Linked DNA regions of Homo sapiens. The protein of the gene in region 2 interacts with the protein of the main gene of each other region in a pairwise test. Each region holds a gene or a part of one and is shown on either strand. Other genes may lie near its edges.

Region 1 (3,500 bases), on a different chromosome or scaffold from region 2:
ATCTATCAGATGAACTGATACTTAAAGAAAAACAATAATTTGCTTTCTTTTTCCATGACTATTCAATGGCCTCTTTTAGTATTTTTTTAAACATTAAAATGGCTTCAAACAATTTAACTAGACTTGATTATTGAATGAATACACAAAATCTGCTGGTTAACTTTAATTCTAAGGCAAGTCAGCTTCTAAGTCTTTTACTGTCCTACTTTTTTTCTTTCTTTTTTTTTTTGGAGACAGAGCCTTCTTGTTCTGTCGCCCAGGTTGGAGTGCAATGGCCTGATCTTGGCTCACTGCAACCTCACCTTCCCAGGTTCAAGTGATTCTCCTGCCTCAGCCTCCTGAGTAGCTGGGATTACAGGCATGCGCCACCACACTCAGCCAATTTTTATATTTTTAGTAGAGATGGGGTTTCACCATATTGGCCAGGCTGGTCTCAAACTCCTGACCTCAGGTGACCCACCCTCCTCAGCCTCCCAAAGCGCTGGGATTACAGGTGTGAGCCACCGTGCCCAGCCCTGGCCATACTTTCGTAACAAGGAAGAAGCAAGGCCGAATCCTTTCTTTTCATAAAGATGAATGCATGATAAACCAATAACTTTCATCTGTTAACTGAGCTGCATATAATTAGAGACCTATCTCAAGACATACTAGAAATTAAGAAACTACAAAATGTTATTCCCCTCTCTGCCTCTCCTATTTGTCAAAAGCAACACCATGCTCATTTATGTAGGCTTGGCACCACCTGACTCCTCCCACTCCTGAGCCTGCATTTCAAGTTCTGTAAATATAAACTCTGTACTAGCATCATTATATCTCTCTTTTCCACTCCTGCTGCTCCCCTCTTAGTTCATGCTTCCTCTCATTTGATCAGCTCATCTTTGGCAAGATTTTGCAATAATATACTAAGCTAGCTCCCTGCCCCCACATCCTAGCACTCCAGAGAGTTATTCATTCTCATCACATCAGTGATCTTTCTGAAATCAGAAATTCAACCACGTCACTTTTCAGCTTACCATTCAATGAATTTCTTCGAATGCTAAACATAGAATTGCCACACAACCAAGCAATTCCACTCCTAGGTATATATCCAAGAGAGATGAAAACATGTCCACATAAAAACTGGGGGGCTGAGCACCATGGCATGCACCTGTAATCCAAGCTACTCAGGAGGCTGAGGCAGGAGGATCACTTGAGCCCAGGAATTTGAGACCAGCCTGGGCAAAACAGACCCCATCTCAAAACAAAACAAAAATGTGTACACTTGATCACAGCAGCATTATTCATAAAATTTAAAAGCGTAAACAAACTAAATGTCCACCAACTGACAAATGGATAAACAAGATGTAGTACAAATACACCACACAACATTATTTGGTAACAAAAAAGAATGATGAACAGATAAATGCAACAGCATGGATGAATACTGAAAACACTACCTAAGTCAAAGAAGCCGATACAAAAGACTACATATTATATAACTCTTTATGTAAAATGTCCAGCATAGGAGACTCCACAGAGACAAAAAGTAAATTGGTGGTTGCCTGGGGCTAAGGTTGGGGTGAGAGTTTGGGAATAGGAGCAGCTGCATCCAGTGTTTCTTTTGGGGGAAGCTAAAAATATTCTAAAATTAGATTGTGATAATTGCACAATTTGGTGAAAAAACTAAAATTGTACACTTTAAATAGGAAAATGTATGCCATGAAATATATCTCAACAAAGTAGTTTAAAAAATCTCCACAACTTCCTACACCCTTCCACCTTTCCTGCCTCATCTTTTGTCCCTCCCCACATAAATCCTTTAACCCCAAAGGATAAAATCTCCTGCATTAACATGTGATAGCTACAAGAATGGGGTTCACCTTCCTACCCTTGCAGCTGTAGCCTGTGATCCTAAAGGAGGGATTCTGCCACCATGAGCTTCCATTGTAAAAATGGAGAAATATCTTACAAGGATATGAGATAATGATGTAAAATATAACATGCTCAGCACCGTGCCTGGCATGCGGTTAAGTGCTCAATAAGTGATGGTCATTCTCATCATTCCCAGAAGGAACCAAAGTATCCCTCTCCTTTGGGACACCTTCAAGGAGTGAAACACACTCCCCCACCTGGTCCACCTATTAAATATCTGCATATTTTCCAAAATGGGGGTCAAATGTCCCTCATCCTTTTCACATTCCTCAAGGCAGTAAGCCCCTCGAGGGTAGGGCCAGTGCCTATTCACCTGTGTGCCACCCCCTGCCAAGGCTTACCACAATACCTGGTACTAAATTGTTTCAAGAAGTACACATTAATGATTACTATTACATATATAAACATGAATATTGATTATCAGACCTACAATAGCCACGACCCACAATAAGACCCACCTACGACCCACAATAGCCAAGATCAGGGTAAATGTGTTAATCATTTTAACTCTTTTACCTCTACTCTTCAGCGACAGCCTCCAGTTTTTATTTATTTATTTGAGACCAAGTCTCACTCTGTTGCCCAGGCTGGAGTGCAGTGGCTGCATCTTAGCTCACTGCAACTTGCTACTCCCGGGTTCCAGCGATTCTCATGCCTCAGCTTCTCGAGTAGCTGGGACTACAGGTGCGTACCACCACACCTGGCTAATTTTTTGTATGTCTAGTAGAGACTGGGTTTCACCATTGTTGGCCAGGCTGGTCTCAAACTCCTGGCCTCAAGCGATCCACCCACCTCAGCCTCCCAAAGTGTTGGGACTATAGGCATGAGCCACCACACTCAGCCTCCAGTTAATAATATTTAGTAAGTACAGGCAACGTCCTAACTGCTCTAGAGATTATCTCATTTTATCCTCACTTGCAACTACCCTCTGGGGCAAGTACTATCATTTTATAGATAAGAAAACTGAGGCTGGGAGGTATTTACTGGTACATTTATTTTGAATGAAAAAAATGAGGAAAAGAAAAACAAAATGACTGTGTATGCCACTACAGTTCACTGAATTGAATACATTCTAGGGGCTCCTTGTAAATGTCCATGGCTTGCCTTTTTTCTTGCTACTAACGGAAATCACTGTTGTGCTTGACACACCTGGCTTGCCAGGACAGTCTTTTCCAGGAAACTCTCCAGCTTTGGGACCTCTCCCTCCACCATGACATCTCCTCCCTGCCTTCATCCCAGCCAGCCCTCTGATTCATTCTCATCAATGATTTTTCTGAAATCAAAAATTCAACCATGTCACTCTTCAGCTAACCATTCAATGAATTTCTTCAAATGCTAAAATACAGAGTTGCCATACAACCTGACTTCTATTAGAATAAACTAGAATTCTAAACCAATACATGGATTAGTAAGACTAGATATTCCTTACTCTGGTCTCACATTGGAGCAAAACAAAGAGAAAAGGGACACAGCCAATTTTAAAGCTATCCAAGTCACACTAGGGATTCCCAGGACCTCCGTATGAATCCAGGAAGTGCCAGAATCAGATTTTCCTCAAAGCGTCCTCTGGCAAATCCATAGTCTGAGGA
Region 2 (5,394 bases):
ACACGAGCCCTCTCTCTCTCAATCTCTCTCTCTCACACACACACACACACACACACACACACACACACACATATCAAATGGGGAGGAGCCACTCTGGCCTGCCCAGTGTCTTTGCAGTCAAAGGCACACACAGCTGCCATTATACCCAGCATACCAATAAATCCCAATTTGGTGGAAACCTCATCAGCCTTTAAAGATGTGTTTGTGTGCTATGAAATCCTATGAACTAGCTGTCAAATGGTGGTCCTCAATCTTGGCTCCTGCACTGGGTGGGGTGGAGTAGGAGTGGCTTTAAGAAACATCTGAAGGCAGGCTGCACCCCAGAGCACCCCAGTGTCCTTGGAGGTGGCCTGGGCTTCAGGACCTGAGTGACAGCAGGGTGCAAGCATGTTTGAGACCATGGCTGTACACCTTTGGGTGAGCTGCTGAACCTCTCAAAGCCTCGCTCTTCATTGGAGGACAGAATGGTGCCAGCAGTCATGATGCATGATGTGTTTCTAAGTTACTTCTCTTCCTGGTCTCATCCTACTTACCCTTTCCCCCCAAGCAAACCTTATTATTATCATTTTTCTAAATTGAAAAAAGTACACACTCCTGATCGTTGTAAATACTGCAGGCACACTGAAGTAGGCAGAATAAAAATGTTAATTTCACCTTTTTCTCTAAACCAATTCTATTCCCCTCCCCCCAAAGCTGCTGTTCTTAATTTGGTGCTTACACTTCCAGATCATGCTACATATTTACATACACATGTGTACACACTGGATAGAATATGTATAGGCAGAAATGCATGTATAAGTAGTAAACGACAATCCAATATCACTTAAATTATTATGTGCATGTGGGAGATTTTTAGGTTTTTTTTTTTTTTTTCACTTATTATTTTTGAGACAGGGTCTTGCTCTGTCACCCAGGCTGGTGTGCAGTGGCATGATCTCAGCTCACTGCAGCCTTGACCTCTTGGACTCAAGTGATCCCCCCACCTCAGCGCCCCCATGTAGCTGGGACTACAGGTGCACACCACCAGTCCAGGCTAGTTTTTTTTTTTGGTATTTGTCATAGAGGTGGGGTTTTGCCATATTGCCCAGGCTGGCTTCAAACTCCTGAGCTCAAGCAATCCACCCACCTTGGCTTCCCAAAGTGCTGGAATTACAGGCATGAGTCATTGCACCCAACCCAGCATGAGTTTTTTAAACAAATACAATGATATGTTACATCTTGCTTTTTCACTAGTAGAACTTGGACATTGTTATATTTGGTGTATGAAATAAATTCCACATTTTTTAGAAGACTGCATAGGATTCCAACATATGAATCAACTGTACTTCCCTTAGTGATTTTTTTTTGCTATTATAAAATAAAATGTTGCAATGAATATTTCTCCACTTTTGTCAATTTATATGTGTGATAGGTTCCTAAAAGTGAAGTTGTTGAGTGAAAGCACTTGTGTTTTAAATTTTAAAAGATATTACCAAACGGCCCTGTCAGCACCCATCTGTGTCTTTTTTCTTATTGATTTGAAAAAACTCGCTGCATATTAAAGCTATTGATGCTTTACCACAAGTATTGAAATTAAATATATCTTACCATTTTTTTCACTTATTTGTATATTTTTTCATTTTATGGGGATTTGCTTAAAATTTTAGGAAATCATGCTTATCAATCTTGTGATGAGTGTGAATATAAATTCATATGTTTTATCACATTTAGACAGGCCTCTTCACAATTATTTTAAAACTCACCTAAGTTTTCTTTTAATAGCTTCATTATTTCAATGCTATATTTTTATTCTTTGTTCAGCTTGGAATTTATTTTGATATAAAGAGCAAAGTTTTGTTTTTTTTTCCAAACGATTTGCCGTTTTCCCAAGACCATTCATCCATGGCCCTGCACCTCCCCCGCCTGGTGTGCAAAGCCTCCCTTGGACCCATGCCTGCATATTATCTGGGTCTGGGCTCTACTCCCCACAGCAGCTTCACTTTACAATTTTGTGGAGTTTGTCTCCCTTAACACCTTTATCTTACATTTCTTCCCTGAGTCTTCTCATAAGTCTCTCTCTCTTTAAGTTTTTGCACATCTAAAGTGAAAGAAACACTTTACCGTAAGTATTTTAATGTGCTTAATTGTGTTTGGTCTTCACACTGACAGAGTTCTGGAATCATCTGTACAGCAGGCTCATTTCAGGGGCCTTAGACATCTGTCCATCTCCATATCTGGAGAGCTCCCTGGTGCTCTTGATGGCATCACAGAAAGGCCATCGTGGGGAGGTGCCAGTCTTCACTCACACATTTGTTACAGGTTGAATTGTGTCCCCCCAAGTTCAAATGTTGATGTCCTAACTCCCTAACCCCTCTGAGTGTGACCTTATTTAAAGACAGGGTCTTTACAGCAGTGATTACGCCCCATTGAAGTCCTTAGGGTGAGCCCTACTCCAACATGACTGGTGTCCTTACATGAAAAGGAGATCTGGACCCAGAGACAGGCACACAGGGAGCATGCCATGTGGAGCTGGAGATGGTCACCCACAAGCCAAGGAGATGCTGGGGGCACATTGTCCCACCCAACCCTTGGAAGGAGCCACCCTGGGACATCCTGACCTCAGTCTCTTTGGCTCAGAGTTGGGAGGCGACACATTGGGCTGTTCAAGCCGTTCAGTATGTGGTGCTTTGTTATGAAAGCCTGATCGGACTGATACTCCATTCCTCCATAACAGACACTGACACAGCTTCCAGAGTCTTCTGAGAAGAAACAAGCTCCGGGGAATACCTTACACACTGCTGGCTTCTTTGGGGAAATCATCCCTCACAAACGCTTGCCTTTCTAGCCTGAGCCCTTCTCCCCAGCTGCCAAGCTGCCTTTCCTTGACCAAATCATTGAAGTCCCACCTGCCTCACAAACATTTCCATAACAGGAGGGAAACGGGTCTGAGATCTGTCCACACCTGTCCACTCCCAACCCTCACGACAGCAACACAAGCAGAGAGCAGCAGTTCTGCCCCGTAGGGGGACAGCCACAGACATGGAGGTCTGATGTGGGAAGGACAGAGACACTCACAGCTAGGGGCTCGGCACTCACTTTCCACGAGGCTCTAGTTCACTCTGGATAGTAAATTTATCTCTATGGAAGGAAGGCATGCATAAAAGCTTCAGCTCTTCTCACTTGAGTCTCTCATTGGTTTGGGATTGTGTCTAATTCCTATTGTATATGCTTAACTTCTCAATGCAAAAGCCACAAAGATCAAAACAAGTTTTGTGTAACCATTGGTGATGAGTAAAATTGGCATGTCTGACACTGAGCCTGTGTCCTCCCTCTGCCTCTCCAGGCTTTCCTGAGCTGCTGACAGGACTCCAAACCTGCCCACCAATTAGGCAGGACAGCAGATCCTCTTTTACGCCTTATTAGAGTAGTGGATAGGGATTCTGGTTCTGGATTAGAAACACCTAGTTTTGAGAGTTCTAATCCCAGCAGCATCACTCAGTGGTTGGACAAATCCCTTCACCTTTCTGAGCCCGTTTCTAATCGGGTTGAATTAGATACTCTGCATATTTAAACAGGCTTCTAAGAATCTATGAATTTGGACCCTCGGTATCCTAATAAGCAGGACAGACTTCATGACAGAGCTACAAGATCACCAGCAGTGATTTGGGGAACCTAACGCCAAGGCCTGCGATGCAGCCTGCTCTAGCCAGGCTCTTCCTGAGCCCTCACTGTGAGTTCCTTCACGTAGCCATGACCATCAGCTGATTGGTGTTGTTAACCAAAAGGAAGTGGTGGCCTTCCACCTCAAGCATATGCACAGCTATAAATGCAGAGAAGGGGAAGAAACATGAAAAACAGTATTACAGAAAATGAAGTCATAGCACGCTGAGGATCTGAGGAGATGTTCCATGAGTAGCTTGGCAATGAATGCTCTCCTTGAAAGGCATGAAGCAGGTCAGGCTCACACTGAAGGGGGCAATCACAGTCCCCCTGTGCAGGCAGGCAGCAGTGTGGGGGGTGCAAGGTGGGAGAAGACCAAGGGTGGAGTGCCTTAGAAGCGACAGAGACCTGAGGGAGGAACAGGGAGGAGCGGGAGGACAAGGGAAGAGTAGATGCTCCCCAGCTCCAAGAAAGCAGCAGAAGACGCCTCGCAGGAAAAGACAGGTGTGTGGCTTCGTTTGAATAGGGAAGGCATGGCCATACCCACAAAGAACAGGGAGTTCCTGCCACCCACACACCACACAGACCAGTTATGGGCCCATCCTGCCCTGTGCACATCCAGGTCTTGCCCTCCTCCTATCTCATGTGGGACAGGCTGCAAGAATGCAGCCTTAAAAGACTAATGCCTAGGGTACCTAAAAAAAAAAAAAAACCAACACACACGTGGAAATACCCAGCACATCAGGAAAGCTGACAGCAGGAGAGAGAGGCACCAAGCATGCAAGCAGATGAACTGATACCCCGGGAGACGGGGGTAATGGTGCACTCAAACAAGTAATAAAATACACAGAAAACTAATACATCACTTAAAAAAATCCCAAAGAAGTAACTACATTCCTTGGAAATTAACCACCTGCTTGCTAAAATAATCATAGGAAAACTAAGTGGATGGACTGAAGAACAGGATGGACAGGGATGAAGGGCTTCCTTGAGATAAAGATTAACCTGATGGTTTCATGAAAACACAGTGCAAATGGCAAAGGAGAGGGAAAGAATGAAAAGAAAAAGTGCATTCATTGCAGCACTGTTTATAATATCAAAAATTAAAAAAAATCGACATGCCTATTCTGGACTGTCATAAAAATTACAATAATCACTGAATATGGAGACCTCCCCGCACCCCAACATATTAATAAAAAGAAAGTTCCAGAGTGATAAAGGTATTAAGAAGACATACACAGCCCACCATTATATCTTCTGAAGACGTGCACACATGCACACATGAATGCACAGGACGAAAGAAGAGAGGTTAGAGCTCCAACTGCTCCCCAACAGTGGGACTGGGGGCAGGGCTGGGACTGAGGGTGGAGGTTAAGAAGGGCTTTTCTGTTGCTCGCTGTATCTGAATCCTGTACTAAAGGATATGTACTCGTGTATCAGTTATGCAATGGACAACTTTCCTAAAAGAAAATATTAGAAAGTTCTCCCATCTTGGAGGTCAGAGAAACTAACTTTGGCAATTGTAGTTGCTCATCAAACCTATCTGGACGTGCCTTCCCTCCAAGACTGCAGGGCAGATTCCCAGAGTCAGCCCGCCTGGGAGAGGCTCTGACAGTTATGTCAGTTTTAACCACATACCAGGTACCGAGCACTGCAGGCACGGTCTCCATTAGGTATCAGAGTGAAGCCCCCTGTGACTGCTCCATTTACAAAAGAAGAGCTTACAAATAAAGAAGGGGGACTTGAACCCAGTGG

The links. The genes of interacting proteins can lie anywhere in the genome.
Region 1: the proteins of SYK (region 2) and MICOS10-NBL1 interact in binary tests that used the Homo sapiens proteins (3 or more experiments, as listed by UniProt).

The regions. Positions count from the first base shown.
Region 1 is NC_000001.11:19,603,479-19,606,978, reverse strand, and holds part of MICOS10-NBL1 (neuroblastoma suppressor of tumorigenicity 1 isoform a precursor), read right to left. Parts: intron 1-3,500. UniProt on the Homo sapiens protein: Possible candidate as a tumor suppressor gene of neuroblastoma. May play an important role in preventing cells from entering the final stage (G1/S) of the transformation process.
Region 2 is NC_000009.12:90,807,419-90,812,812, reverse strand, and holds part of SYK (tyrosine-protein kinase SYK), read right to left. Parts: intron 1-5,394. UniProt on the Homo sapiens protein: Non-receptor tyrosine kinase which mediates signal transduction downstream of a variety of transmembrane receptors including classical immunoreceptors like the B-cell receptor (BCR).